2 linked regions of the Homo sapiens genome follow. The protein of the gene in region 1 binds, or shares a complex with, the protein of each later gene. Each region holds a gene or a part of one and is shown in the gene's direction. Other genes may lie near its edges.

Region 1 (8,003 bases):
ATAAATGGAATAATAAAGCCTGGATGACAGCACATCTGTTTACAGCATGGTTCACTTAATATTTTAAGTCCATTGTTACACCTACTGCTCAGAAAAAAAAATTCCTTTCAAAATAATACTGCTCATTGACAATGCACCTGGTCACCCAAGAGCTCTAATGGAGATGTACAAGGAGATGAATGTTGTTTTCATGCCTGTAACACAACATCCATTCTGCAGCCCCATAAATCAAGGAGTATTTTGACTTCCAAGTTTTATTACCTATGAAATAAATTTTGTAAGCCTATAGCTGCCATAGATAGTGACTCCTCTGATGGATCTGGGCAAAGTCAGTAGAAAACCTTCTGGAAAGGATTCATCATTCTAGATGCCCTGAAGAACATCAATAATTCATGGGAGGAAAAATATCAACATTAACAGGAGTTTGGCAGAAATTGACTCCAGCCCTCATGAATGGCTTTGAGTTGTTCAAGACTTTGGTGGAAGAAGTCACTGCAAGTGTGATAGAAACAACAAGAGAACTAGAATTAAAAGTGGATCCTGAAGATGTGACTGAGTTGCTGCAATTTCATGATAAAACTTGAACAGATGAGGAGTTGCTTCTTATAGATGAGCAAATAAAGTAGTTTATGAAGATGGAATCTACTTCTGGCAAAGATGCTGTGAACATTGTTGAAATGACAACAACGGATTTAGAATATTTTGAATATTAAATAAACCTAGTTGATAAAGCAGTGGCAGGGTTTGAGAGGATTAACTCCAATTCTTAAAGAAGTTCTACTGTGACCAAAATGCTATTAAACAGCATTACTTGCTACAGAGAAATATTTAATGAAAGGAAGAGTCAATCGATGCAGCAAACTTCATTGTTGTCTCATTTTAAGAACTTGCCACAGCCACCTCAACCTTCAGCAACCATGATCAGTCAGCAGCCATCAACATCAAGGCAAGACTCTCCATCAACAAAAAGATCACCATTTGCTGAAGGCTCAGGTGATCATTAGCTTTTTTTTTTAGCAATACATATCTGTGTGTGTATGTGTATGTGTATAAAATTTAGAGATGGGATCTCACTGTCATGATCATAGCTCACACTCCAGCAGCCTCAGACTCCTGGACTCAAGGGATCCTCCTTGCCTCAGCCTCCCAAGTAGCTGGAACTACAGGCATGCACCACCATACCTGACCAATTAAAAACAACTTTTTAGAAACAGGGTCTCACTCTGCTGTCCAGGCTGCCTTGAGTCCCTGCCTCAGCCTCCTGAGCCCTGACACCCAGCTCATGGTAACTGTTGGTTTGCTTGTTTGAGACAGGGTCTCATTCTGTTTGCTCAGGCTGGAGTACAAAGGCATGACCACAGCTCACTGCAGCCTCAACCTTCTGGGTTCAAGGAATCCTCTCAACTCAGCCTCCCAAGTATCTGGGACTACAGGTGTGTGCCAACATGCCTGGCTAATTTTTGTATTTTTTTTGTAGAGACAGGGTCTCACTATGTTGCCCAGGCTGGCCTTGAACACCTGGGCTCATGTGATCCACCCGCCTCAGCCTCCCAAAGTGCTGGGATTACAGGCGTGAGCCACTGCACCAGGCCATTAAGCCACATCTTAAGGGTGGACAGGTCAGGGATGGGCATTTCAAGCCAAGGAAAACAGCCTATTTAAAGAAACCACAAAAGAGCCTACCCTCTAAGACATAAAGCCGGAACAAAGGTAAAGACAAGTGGAGGGAGATGATGGTGGAAGAGTAGAAGTACTTGGTCTTAAAGAGCTTTATAATTCACCATAAGAAGTTTGGATTTTATTCAGTACAGCAGGTAGCCTTGGAAGGATATGAGCAAGGGCGTGGCAGGCATGCACCACCCTTCTATAGAAGATAGAATGGAGAGAGGTAAAACTGGAGACTAGGATAGTTAAGGGGTTGCTGCAAGGTTAAGACCATGAGAGCTTGGTCAAGAACAGTGAGGAGGCCAGGTGCCGTGGCTCACGCCTGTAGTCCCAGGACTTTGGGAGGCCCTGGCTGACAGATAGCTTAAACCCAGGAGTTTGAGACCAGCCTGGGCAACACAGTGAGACCTCATCTCTGTTAAATATAATAATAAAAATAATTAAAGAACAGTGAGGGTTGGGCGCAGTGGCTCACGCCTGTAATCCCAACACTTTGGGAGGCCGAGGCAGGCGTATCACCTGAGGTCAGGAGTTCGAGTCCAGCCTGGCCAACATGGTGAAACCCCATCTCTACAAAAATACAAAAATTAGCCAGGCATGGTGGCGGGTGCCTGTAATCCCAGCTACTTAGGAGGCTGAGGCGGGATAATCGCTTGAACCCAGGAGGCGGAGGTTGCAGTGAACTGAGATTGTGCCACTGCACTCCAGACTGAGCGACAGAGTGAGACTCCCTCTCAAAAAAAAAAACAAAAAAAAAAACAACAACAACAGTGAGGAGACATGAAGAGGGATGGATTTAAGGGGCATTTATTTATTTAGTCTACAAAATTAACCTGGTCATCAACGGGTTTTATGGGTGACAAAAAAAATCCAAGATGACTCCAAGGTTTCTGGTTTAGACAACTGTTGAACAGATAATTCACAGATGATAATTCACAGATGATAATCCCAAAGGCAGAACGGATATACAAAGGAAATAAAAGATGAGAGAATTATGGTATTTGGTTCAGTTTAAGGAGCAGGGTGTTTAGGAGTTAGAGGAGGGCAGAAGATGGAACCCTGGGGAAACAGCAACATTTAAAAGGGCAGGAAAGGTAGAGAATAAGGGCCAAGGGATTACTCAACAGTCCGCTCTCCAGGTCTGCCTGGCTCAGATCTATATAAAGAAAAGGAGCAGGGAATGAAGTAAAACTGTTACAGGAAAGGGGTCCCAATCCAGACCCCAAGACAGGGTTCTTGGATCTCACGCAAGACAGAATTCAGGGCAAGTCCACAGTACAAAGCAAAAGCAAGTTTATTAAGAACGTAAAGTGGTGAAAGTACAGCTACTCCACAGACAGAGTAGGGCATTCCCGAAAGTAAGAGGAGGAACGCGTCCACCCTAAGTACAACACTTAGTTTATATATAGGATAAAAAAAGATCATGGGGAGATGTGCTTTGCTACAAGGGTTTGTGATAAAGGATTAATTACTATATTATGTAAGAATCGATATTATCTTTATTTATGAGACAGAGTCTTACTCTGTCGCCCAGGCTGGAGTGCAGTGGTGCAAGCACGGCTCACTGCAACCCCCGCCTCCCGGATTCAAGCGATTATCCTGCCTCAGCCTCCAGAGTAGCTGAAATTCGAGGGCATGTGCCACCACACCCGGTTAATTTTTGTATTTTTAGTAGAGACGTTTTCACCATGTTGACCAGGCTAGTCTTGAACTCCTGACCTCAAGTGATCCGCCCGCCTCGGCCTTCCAAAGTGCTGGGATTACAGGCGTGAGGCACTGTGCCCAGCCCAATATTATTATCTTTAAAGCAAAATTAGGAATGCTTCTGTTCTCAAAATATCGGGATATCTGGACACTTGGTAGTCTGGGTCTGTGTAGTAAACATTATCAATCTGTTGCCTTAATGGTATACACATCTAGAGGCTAGGAATACCTAACTTCCCGGGAATGCAGCCCAGCAAGTCCCAGCCTCATTTTCCTAGCCCTCACTCAACACAGAGTCGCTCTAGTTCGAACCCCTCTAACATATTCTCTCTCAGGTGTGAAAATTGCTGCAGCAGTTCGCTATTTGCAACACAGCACATGGAAATCACAGCAATGGAGAGCCTTCAGAAAAGCTTCTGGGGAGGGACAGCCTGGTGGCTCAACTCCTGTAATCCCAACCCATGGGGAGGTCGAGATGGGAGGATCCCTTGAGCTCGAGTTCCAGACTGACCTGGGCAACGTGGGGAGACAACGCCTCTATTTATTTAAAAAATTACATATATATATATATATATACATACACACACACATATATACATACACACATATATACATACATATACATACATATATATAAAACGCTTCTGCGTTGGCAATTGAGATGATTTGGCGAGTGTGTCTTTTTTCATTGCTAAAAATCTGTCACGTTGGCTCTCACAGAAACTTGTGATACCTGAAGACACAGGTAATGGGATAAAGATTAGCACTCTGGGAAAAGGTTCCACAATTTTATTAATCATACACCATCTGTGTCCGCCCTTTTAAAGAAATGGGCGCAATCAGCCAACGACCTCGGCTTTACACCTGTTCTCCAAGAGGCCCTAGTTGTTCCCTACTGTAAGCTGCCCCAGAAAAGGTCCGCATCAATTAACCCACGGGAACAGCCCGGGGCTGGAGGATGCCCCAGGAATCCGGCCTCCCGCCGCGCCTCCTCCCCCCACAAGCAGTTCCTTCCTGCCTGCCGGAAGCTCAGGGCTCCGCCCACTTCGGCAACTCTGAAGCCACCGCCGGAAACACCTGGCCTCAGCCAATAGTTAGCTTCCCAGGAAACGTTACCTCTGACCTCGGGGCTAATCAGAGACAGTGGGACGCACCCCTCGCGAGAGGTGAGGTTGAAGCTGCCTCCGCCATCTTGGAGATGGGAGACGGGCGATGGCTGTGGTCCTTCTGCTAATGCAAACAACAAAACGGGCACACTAGTCACCCCCGAGGGAGGCCACCATCACTGTAACTGTTGGCCAAAGCTACAAAAGAAGCGAGGGAATCCAACCGAGCGCAGCGACACTGAGAACAGCTTCCCCTGCCTTCTGCGGCGGCAGAAGTGAAGTGCCTGAGGACCGGAAGGATGGTGCAGTCCTGCTCCGCCTACGGCTGCAAGAACCGCTACGACAAGGACAAGCCCGTTTCTTTCCACAAGTGAGGACCCTGCGCGCCTCGCGGGGCCGGTCTCAGCCGGGGTGGGGGCGCGCGGCCGGCGGGGCCGGGGGCGGAGCCAGGCGCGTGTCCGCGCGAGGGGCGGGTGGGGTCTGGGGCCGGCCGTGTCGGGCGTTTCCCACCGCGTCCCGCTGGGAACCGCCGCCCGATCGCGCGTTCTCGGCGCGCGTCGCCGCGGCAGCCGTTTCTCGCGCTCCTGGAACAGGCCCTGGTTGCAGGCTTCGCTCACGGCCTGGGTTGACGCGTTCGGAGCCCACGGGCGATGCCTAGGGTGGCGCGGGTTTTGCCACCACCAGGGTCACAGAGCAGCCAGGTGTTTTAATATGGTCTTAGGGGTAAATTTAAAATAGAAACAAAGGCCTTTAAACGAAGAAATCACTACTTTTCGCCCTTGCCGTGGATGGGAGGCCAGCATCGTAGCAATTAAGGGTTTTTTGGCTGGGAAATCAGGGAGAATTTTTGCCCCCAATCTCTAGGAACTAAGCTTTAAGGACCCTGTATTTTGGAGAAAGCTTCAGGTACTGCCGAGATAAATCGTTATCTTTTCAGCACACAATAATGATAATATGGACAGTTACAACATGGATCATAATAAAATGACTCACACGGATCTTTATTTATTATGGCATTACCTGTGCATAGAGAAAGCTCTTTCGAAAGAAACTGCCCCACAGCTTTCAGAGCTGTCTTATCCAGTAGGTAGCACAGTTAAGTGATAGGATCAAAAATATTCTCTTGAAAATAGGAAAAAAGTGCAGAGTTGTAATTACTTATGATAAACGCTTGTAAAATGTGACATAACATTTTCATTCAGCTGAATTTGTTTACAAATTTTAATTACATTTATGTTAAGTTTTCTTTGCAAGAATTCCTGACAGCTATACGCAGATGATAGGTAAGAAATCAGATCCAGGGGTAAACTATACAGATTAGCCATAGGTAATTAGCTAATTATCTTTTATAATTAGGTAAATAATTACAAAAGCAAAATGTTAAATATCTTTTCAGTTAATTTATTTTTTTGCTGTGGGGCCATCTGTGTTTACTAGGGGAGTGTCCATGCATTTTTTAAATATGTTTGATATCATGTGAGATGGACCCTATAGAAATAAGAGTGTGTAGAACATAGAGAGGTCTCCAGAGTAATAATGTTACCCCTTGGAGAAGGGGATAGAACACTTAGAGGATTCAGTTCAGGATATCCTAATATTATCTCTTGATTTAATTGGAATTTCTGTAAACATGTTCTTTCTAAATGTAGGGAAAGGTCAGGTGATGGTAACAGGATTACATGCCCAGCTCCCCACCCACATTTCTGATGGCTTGGCAGAAGGAATCTAAAATTATGGAAAATGTTTCATTGGCACTGGAAACTAGTTTAAAGAGGGTATTCACACGTCGGAAATAACTGTTTTTGTCGAGGCACGATGGCTCATGCCTGTAATTCCCAGCACTTGGGGAGGCCAAGGTGGGCGGATCACCTGACGTCAGGAGTTCGAGACCAGCCTGGCCAACATGGCAAAATCCCGTCTCTACTAAAAATACAAAATACAGGCGTACGCCTGTAATCTTAGCTACTTGGGAGGCTGAGGTAGGGGAATCACTTGAACCTGGGATATGGAGGTTGCAGTGAGCTGAGATCTTGCCCTGCACTCCAGCTTGGGTAACAGAGTGAGACTCCATCTCAAAAAAAAAAAAAAAAAAAAAAAAAGATACAACTGTTTCTGCTAGATGTTAAGCAGATATGGATTGAATCAAAAGAAGGGCTAACCTGCATCTTATCCCTTATCTAAAATAGCAGGTTTAGGGAGAGTAGATGGGAAAGATCTTAAGAGAATCTCACAAACAGCTGTAAATTTGTTGTCCTTGAGCCAGGAGGCCCTAGGTACTGAATTTTACCAGCAAATGCTACCATAGTTTATACTTACAGAGCCAGGAGGCCATAGGTACTGAATTTTACCAGCAAATGCTACCCTAGTTTATACTTATAGAGGCCGTTCCAGTTGAGATTTTCTTTCTTTTTTTTTTTTTTTTTTTTTTGAGATGGAGTCTTGCTCTGTCACCAGGCTAGAGTGCAGTGGCACGATCTCAGCTCAGTGCAACCTCTGCCTCCCGAGTTCAAGTGATTCTCCTGCCTCAGCCTCCCAAGTAGCTGGGACTACAGGTGTGCACCACCACGCCCAGCTAATTTTTGTATTTTTAGTAGAGACAGGGTTTCACCATGTTGGCCAGGATGGTCTCCATACTTCGACCTCCTGATCCGCCCTCCTCAGCCTCCCAAAGTGCTGGGATTACAGGCCTGATTACAGGCCATGCCCAGCCCCAGCTGAGATTTTCTAGGAGTACCACTTCTCCCACCCTCTACATAGTGGCAGCGGAGAGTGCTATGTCGTACAAAGAAAAGGGACTGTCATAAAGATCTCTTACTAGCAGAGTCAGGCTCTAGCATATCGTACATGGAAGAGAGACTGTGAAACATAAATTTGAAATTCCCTTCCCTTTTTCTTTCTAATCCCCCCAGTTTACCAAATTCTTAACTTGGAAGAGTAAAATTACCACAATAAATGTAAACTCTCACTATCCCCGTTTACCTGGGCCTAATGGACATCCCAGTTGATTAGAAAATAAATTCTTTCGTTATTATCTGCCTTTAATTCAAATTTAGCCTATTCATATTTGTCAGACTGATGCTAAGAGAACTAGAAGCCCCTTTTTCCCAGTACGCAGATACAAATGTGCAATCTTTGTCTCTCTGTGCAGCACACAGAAAATTACTGGTAAAAAATATGAATACAGGTTATTTTTTTCTTTTTGAGACGGTATGGCTCTGTCACCCAGGCTGGAGTGCAGTGGAATGATCTCAGCTCACCGCAGCCTTGACCTCCCAGGCTCGAGCAGTCCTTCCACCTCAGTCTCAGCCTCCTGAGTACCTGGGCACATACCACCATGCCCAGCTAATTTTTGTGTCTTTTGTAGAGACAGGGTTTTGCCGTGTTGCCCAGGCTAGTCTCGAACTCTTGGACTTAAGTAGTCCCTCGGACAGTGGCCTCCCAAGTGCTGGGATTACAGGCATGAGCCGTGGGCACATTTACTCTATAGTATGTATTTTACCTGAATCTTTTGGTGAACTCAGTATAAAA
Region 2 (7,546 bases), on another chromosome or scaffold:
GGAGGATTGCTTGAGCCTAGTAGTTTGAGACCAGCCTGGGCAACATAGTAAGACCCTGTCTCTACAAAAAATACAAAAAGTAGCTATGCGTGGTGACACACACACAGCTACTGGGGAGGCTGAGATGGGAGTTTGAGTCTGCAGTGAGCTGTGATCATGCAACTGCACTCCAGCCTGGGTGATGGTGTGAGACCCTGTCTCAAAAAAAATGTACTTTAGTAATTAAAAATGATTTTTATAAATGGGCTTTAAAGAAGCAGGGCTTCTTGGTGAAAAGGCAGATTCCAGGTCTGGGGCAGGAATTTAAAAAAAATTTTTGGAATGTCTTGTCATACCAGAAAGCAAGGAAGCTTTGACATATTACTTTGCATCAAAAGGACTCAGGAAGCAACTTGAGGAGGCTCCCACTGGCTAAAGATGCAGACTTGAGCATCAATAGGAATAATAACTGAAATATACTAAAACTTATCAAGTATGTTTAAATCTATGAGCTTATAATTATGCTAAAAAATTCATTGGTCATCTTTGGAAGACTTACAAGGAACAATTAATTTGGAAAACTGGTTAAAAAGAGAAGAATAAAGTTTTTGAGGAACCTCTATACTAGTTCCCAAAATGGCTGTGCCAATTTATACTTCCCCCATCAGTTACAAGGCTTCCCTTTCTTTACATCCTCACTAACACTTGTTATTATTCGTCCTTTTGATGATAGCTATACTAACAAGTGTGAGATGCTAACTCATGGTTTTATTTTGCATTTCCTTGATGATTAGTGATGTTGAGCATATTTTTTATATATCTGCTTGCCATTTGTTTTTTTTGTTTTGTTTTGTTTTGTTTTTTTGAGATGAGGTCCTGCTCTGTTGCCCAGGCTGGAGTGCAGTGGCGCCATAATAGCTCACTGCAACCTCGAACTCCTGGGCTCAAGTGATCCTCCCACCTTGGTCTCCCCAAGTGATAGGATTACAGACATGAGCCACTGTGTCTGGCCTGTACCTCTTCTTTTGAGAAATGTCTGTTTAGATCCTTTGCCCGTATTTTAATGGGCGTATTTGCTACTGAGTTGAGCTTCTTAACCCTTTATCAGTTGTATAGTTTGCAAATGCTTTCTCCTAATCCGGGGTTGCCTATTCACTCTGTGTAATTGTTTCCTTTACTGTGCAGAAGCTTTTTAGTTTGATGCAATCTCATTGCATATTTTTGCTTTTGTTATCTGTGCTTTATGCTAAGTGAAATAAACCAGGCACAGAAAGTAGATACTGTATTATGTCACCTATTTGTGGAATCTAAAAAAGTTGATTTCATAGAAACAGAGAGTAGAAGGGTGGTGAGGCTTGGGGGGGTGGAGGAGGGATGGGGAAAAGGGAGATATTGATCAAAGTTTCAGTTAGACTGGAGGAATAAGTTTTAGTGATCTGTAGTACTGCATGGTGACCACAGTTGTTAATAATGTATATTTCAAAATTGCAAAAAGAATAGGTTTTTAATGTCCTCAACCACAAAAAAATAAGTTAGTGAGGTGATGGCTATGTTAATTAGCTTGGTTGACTCTTTCTAAAATGTATACGTGGATCAAACCATCACATTGTATGCCATAAATATACACAATTATATATCAACTTTAAATTTAAAAATTAAAAGAATAAAGCATATGTCTTCCCTCTCCTGTATGAACTAGACCATAGAGTAACCCAATAGTTGATGGGGGAAGCTTTTCTTTATAAAAGCATTCTAGCTAATAAGTGAAGAAGGAATGATAGAATATCACCATTAATAGTGAAAGCATTTATTAGGCCGGGCTTGGTGGCTCACGCCTGTAATCCCAGCACTTCGGGAGGCCATGGCAGGTGGATCACCTGAGGTCAGGAGTTCGAGACCAGCCTGGCCAACATGGCAAAACCCCATCTCTACTAAAAATACAAAAATTAGCCAGGCATGGTAGCAGGAGCCTGTAATCCCAGCTACTCAGGAGGCGGAGGCAGGAGAATCTCTTGAACCTGGGAGGTGGAGGTTGCAGTGAGCTGAGATTGCACCATTGCATTCCAGCCTGGGCGACAGAGCAAGACTCCATCTCAAAAAATAAAAAAAAAGTTAAAGCATTTATCAGTGACAAAAACGAGATACAATCAGGTATTAAGTACCTTGTGGTAAACAATTTCACCAGTGAAGTAGTCTTGCACAAAGAGAAAAGAACACAAACCTAATTAAGCTTCTGGTTCTACCTACCAATTTACAGGAGATATACACGGGACAGGAAACATGTTAAAGGACACCATAGGGATGCAGTCAGCAAAATTCAAACTTTGGGAAGCTGACCTTCTTACTTCAACAAATTGTAATAAAAATGGAGATTTAAATTAAACTTTTAGGCCGGGTGCGGTAGCTCACCCCTGTAATCTCAGCACTTTGGGAGGCTGAGGCGAGTGGATCACTTGAGGTCAGGAGTTCGAGACCAGCCTGGCCAACATGGTGCAACCCCATCTCTACTCAAAATACAAAAGAAAAAAAAAACAGCTGGGTGCGGTGCGGTGGCGTGTGCCTGTAATCCCAGCTACTTAGGAGGCTGAGGCAGGAGAATTGCCTGAACCCGGGAGGAGGAGGAGGTTGCGGTGAGCCAAGATCGTGCCACTGCACTCCAGCCTGGGCGACAGAGTGAGTGACACTCCGTCTCCAAAAATAAATAATGAGTGACACTCCGTCTCCAAAAATAAATAAATAAACACACAAACTTTTAAAGGATTAAAAGAAACTCAGAGAGGCACATTGACAAATTATATCTGTCTTATTTGGATCCTGACTCAGTTAATGAGAAATTGGAGCACTGAATGGATTTTTTTTTTTTTTTTTTTGAGACAGGGTCTCACTTGATCGCCCAGGCTGAAGTGCAGTGGTGTGATCTTGGCTCACTGCAACCTTCACCTCCCAGGCTCAAGGGATTCACTTGCCTCAGCCTCCGGAGTAGGTGGGACTACAGGCGTGCGCCATCATGCCCGGCTAGCTTTTTGTATTTTTAGTGGAGACAGGGCTTTGCCATGTTCCCAGGTCTTGAACTCCTGAGCTCAGGCAGTCTGCCTGCCTCGGCCTCTCAAAGTGCTAGGATTACAGGCATGAGCCACCACGCCCAGCTGATATTTAATATGAAGGAATTGCTGTCTTTTTTTTTTTTTTTTCTGTTAGGTATGATAATGGTATTGTGGTTAGGTTGGGAGGAAAAAGCATTCTTGTGTTGTCCCTGAGATACATATTGAAGTATTTTTGAATGGAATATGTCTGGGCTTTGCTTCAAAATGATCTGCGAAGAGGGGGAGTAAGTTGGAGTATAGATTAAATAAGATCAAACATGATATATGAATTGTTGAAAATGGATAATGGAGACTTGGACGTAATGTTCCTCTGCTTTTGTATATGTTTAAACATTTCTATTATAAAGTTTAAAAGTTCTTGGGGTGGACATCTATCACTATAGACAATCTAAATTAAATGCATCATGCCGTGTTTACTACAGAGTTGTCATCTAAGTGAAGATGAAGTGTTCTTTCTTTATTTTTTTTTGAGACAGAGTCTCGCTCTGTCGCCCAGGCTGGAGTGCAGTGGCACGATCTCAGCTCACTGCAGCTTCCGCCTCCCAGGTTCAAGCAATTCTCCTGCCTCGGCCTCCTGAGTAGCTGGGATTACAGGCGTGAGCCACCATGCCCGGCTAATTTTTTGTATTTTTTAGTAGAGACGGGGTTTCGCCATGTTGGCCAGGGTGGTCTTGAACTCCGGGCCTCAAGTGATCTGCCCGCCTTGGCCTCCCAAAGTGCTGGGATTACAGGCATGAGCCACCGCGCCCAGCAGATGAAGTGTTCTTTATCAGTCTTTAATAAACATACAATTACTCAGTGTCTTAATCAAATACCTTTTCGGTGTGTGTGTTTTTTTTTGTTTTTGTTTTTTGTTTTTGGAGACACAGTCTTGCTCTGTTGCCCAGGCTGGAGTGCAGTGGCGCAATCTTGGCTCACTGTAACCTCTGCCTCTCGGGTTCAAGCCATTCTCATGCCTCAGCCTCTCGAGTAGCTGGGACTACAGTTGCACATCACCATGCCCAGGTAATTTTTGTATTTTTAGTAGAGATGGGGTTTCACCATGTTGGCCAGGCTGGTCTTGAACTCCTGACCTCAAGTGGTCCGACCTCGGCCTCCCAAAGTACTGGGATTACATGTGTGAGCCACTGCACCTGGCCGGTGTTTTGATTGAAGTTTGCATTTACCATGCTGTAGGAGTATCTTTCTTGATCAGTGTTTCTCTTCCTTGGTTATACATGAGGAGCTTATAAAAGATCTGAATATCCTGACCCTATCTTCAGAGGGTCTGATTTAACTGGCCTGTGATAGAGCCTCGGTACCTTTTCTAGGAGGTAAATTCTTAATATATTGCCAAGGTTGAGAATCACTGCTCTAGACAACATGACAGCTATTTGGATGACACCGTGTAATGGTTAGTATTTCCTTGAAGTATTGTATCTTACTGTGTATACAGCTCTAATTGCATGTCTTAATAAGGTCTTGCTGAGCATGTAGTTTGTATGCATACAACTGAGGTATATATTTACCTTTTCAGTAAGAGTTTGCTGCCTCTTTTGCCACTATTTTTCAGAAGAGTTAGACTGGTTAATTGTGAATAAAATAGGGCCAATCATTAGAAGTGTTCAGTTTAATGAAATTGGAGCAGGCCCAATATTTAATTTTTCTCTTCAGGACCCATTTTGCTCATGAGAACATGAGGCATGAGAAGTTATTTTGATAATGTTGAGGTTTGTAAAAATAATGAGAAGACACTAAATAAATAATTGGTTTATTAAAATGAAATGTAATTGAAAGTCTGCAAGGACCTTGGAGTAAAAAAATTGTAATTGGGAAGTTGATCTGGTGAAATCCTAACTTGCTCTGAGTAACTAACTGTCTTGAAATTTTTAGGCTGTCACCCTTGACCCAAACTTTCTGGATGCTTATATCAATTTAGGAAATGTCTTGAAAGAGGCACGCATTTTTGACAGGTGAGAGAATGTTCTGTTTAATAAATTTTCTTGAATCTTTGTTGTATTGACACTTGACAGTTTGGACCGAAATGATGACAATAGTCCATTGAAGCATATTTGCCTTTTCTAGCACGTTGTTCTCTGCCCATGTCCTGTGTTGCCTTTTATTTATAGATGTTGTTCGTTGCCTGACTTTTTGTTGTTGGCTTTCCTCAAAGCCGTTATCCTTCTCATTGGGAGTTTAGTTGAAATTTTTTTATTGTTAAAATGGTTGAAATGATTCTTTCTTAGACTAAATTATTCCTTTGACCTGATTTTAGAAAGCAAAGTAAATCCAGACTTTTAAATTTTTTGTTGTTGTCAAAGGAAAGCCTATTTTTTATGTGGGAGTAGAAAACTTCCCAGTGTAAAGACACATTTTATAAAGGTGTGATTTTGGTTTGAGGTTAAAATATAATACAGCATGAATTATGTAATTAATTACAATTACTTGATATATTTTGATATAGTACAGCTTGAATGAGTTGTAACAAACCATCCATTAAGCATGAGTTACATTTTGTGTGTGTGTGTGTGTGTGTGTGTGTGTGTGTGTGTGTGTGTGTTTATTTACAGAGCTGTGGCAGCTTATCTTCGTGCCCTAAGTTTGAGTCCAAATCACGCAGTGGTGCACGGCAACCTGGCTTGTGTATACTATGAGCAAGGCCTGATAGATCTGGCAATAGACACCTACAGGCGGGCTATCGAACTACAACCACATTTCCCTGATGCTTACTGCAACCTAGCCAATGCTCTCAAAGAGAAGGGCAGTGTAAGGATTTTTACTCATTCTATTTGTTATCTGGTAGGATTAAGAGTCTTTTCTGGCCAGGTGTGGTGGCTCACACTTGTAATGCCAGCACTTCGGGAGGCCGAGATCAGAGGATTGCTTGAGCTTAGGGTTTCGAGACCAGCCTAGGCAACATGACGAAACCCTGTCTCTACAAGAAATACAAAAATTAGCCGGGCATGGTGGCACACACCTGTAGTCCCAGCTCCTTGGGAGGCCGAGGTGGGAGGATCGATTGAGTCCTGGGAGGTTGAGGCTGCAGTGGGCCATGATTGTGCCACAGCACTCCAGCCTGGGCAACAGAGCACGAGACTCTGTCTCAAAAAAATCACAAAAACCAAAAAACAGCAAAAAAGGAAAGTCTTTTGTACAAGTATTGAGATGGTATATTGGTTTACTTTAGAGTTTTGGTTGAGGGTAAGAATACCAAAAAATATCAATTTTCTGTAGCATTACCAGCCATTAGGCTTAATTAAACAATTATTAGAACAGTATCAGTGGAGGCTTTATGATTCTGTACAGTTTTTGAAGACTTTGTTTTGTTTTCTAGGTTGCTGAAGCAGAAGATTGTTATAATACAGCTCTCCGTCTGTGTCCCACCCATGCAGACTCTCTGAATAACCTAGCCAATATCAAACGAGAACAGGGAAACATTGAAGAGGCAGTTCGCTTGTATCGTAAAGCATTAGAAGTATGTGAGGGTGGTGTAGCTGGGCATTTAGCATGATAGTAGAGGGAAAGCAGTTAAGTTTACCATCATCCACCTCTTTTGTAAAAATAGTGGTTGAATCATTTACAAGAGGATTATTCATTGAAGTAACAATTGAGTACCTAAGGTATGATGTGAGGCCCTATGTGACATTCCAGAAAATCCCTGCATTCAGAGTTCATTATTCTGTGGATAAGATCTGTACAAAAAAATTAAACATTAACCCACAGTTCAAGAGAAGTTACTTATAAGTATATAATCTTAGTGCCTGATGGCTGTATGGTAGTGGTTAGTAGATGTGGTAGGAGTTTAGCAGAGAGAGATTTCAGTGGTGTTGGAGTGGTCAGGATAAACTAAGAGGAGAAGAGGTGTACCTCATTATGTTTGAAACAAGAAGAGGTATAAAATAGAGGAAGAGGTAGAATTTGAGAATGAATAGACTTGGAAAAAGTAGAGACAAATTTAGGGGTTTAAATGTACTTGAGCAAAGTTCTTAAGGTTGTGGTGAATTATTACTGCTGCTTTAGCAATTTTTTTAACCTCAGTTCTGATCTTGACTCTTTATAGGTCTTCCCAGAGTTTGCTGCTGCCCATTCAAATTTAGCAAGTGTACTGCAGCAGCAGGGAAAACTGCAGGAAGCTCTGATGCATTATAAGGAGGCTATTCGGTAAGAGACACTAACAGCCTTATTTTTAAAATTATTTTTAATTTTAAAATGTTTGACATTCGGCACATTGCAGATGCTAAAATGGCTTTAAATAACAACGGAATAAGTTAGCATTACAGTGGGTTAAAGATTTTTGTATTGGAGAAATAAAACCTTTGGCTTCTCTTTTAGAATCAGTCCTACCTTTGCTGATGCCTACTCTAATATGGGAAACACTCTAAAGGAGATGCAGGATGTTCAGGGAGCCTTGCAGTGTTATACGCGTGCCATCCAAATTAATCCTGCATTTGCAGATGCACATAGCAATCTGGCTTCCATTCATA

What was found. The genes of interacting proteins can lie anywhere in the genome.
Region 2: THAP1 (region 1) and OGT share a complex: the UniProt entries of both Homo sapiens proteins name them as parts of the THAP1/THAP3-HCFC1-OGT complex.

What each region holds. Positions count from the first base shown.
Region 1 is NC_000008.11:42,839,866-42,847,868, reverse strand, and holds the start of THAP1 (THAP domain-containing protein 1), read left to right. Parts: upstream 1-4,543; 5' UTR 4,544-4,774; coding exon 4,775-4,845; exon of another isoform or gene 4,846-4,935; intron 4,936-8,003. UniProt on the Homo sapiens protein: DNA-binding transcription regulator that regulates endothelial cell proliferation and G1/S cell-cycle progression.
Region 2 is NC_000023.11:71,549,558-71,557,103, forward strand, and holds part of OGT (UDP-N-acetylglucosamine--peptide N-acetylglucosaminyltransferase 110 kDa subunit), read left to right. Parts: intron 1-4,955; coding exon 4,956-5,035; intron 5,036-5,632; coding exon 5,633-5,828; intron 5,829-6,396; coding exon 6,397-6,537; intron 6,538-7,122; coding exon 7,123-7,223; intron 7,224-7,394; coding exon 7,395-7,546. UniProt on the Homo sapiens protein: Catalyzes the transfer of a single N-acetylglucosamine from UDP-GlcNAc to a serine or threonine residue in cytoplasmic and nuclear proteins resulting in their modification with a beta-linked N-acetylglucosamine (O-GlcNAc).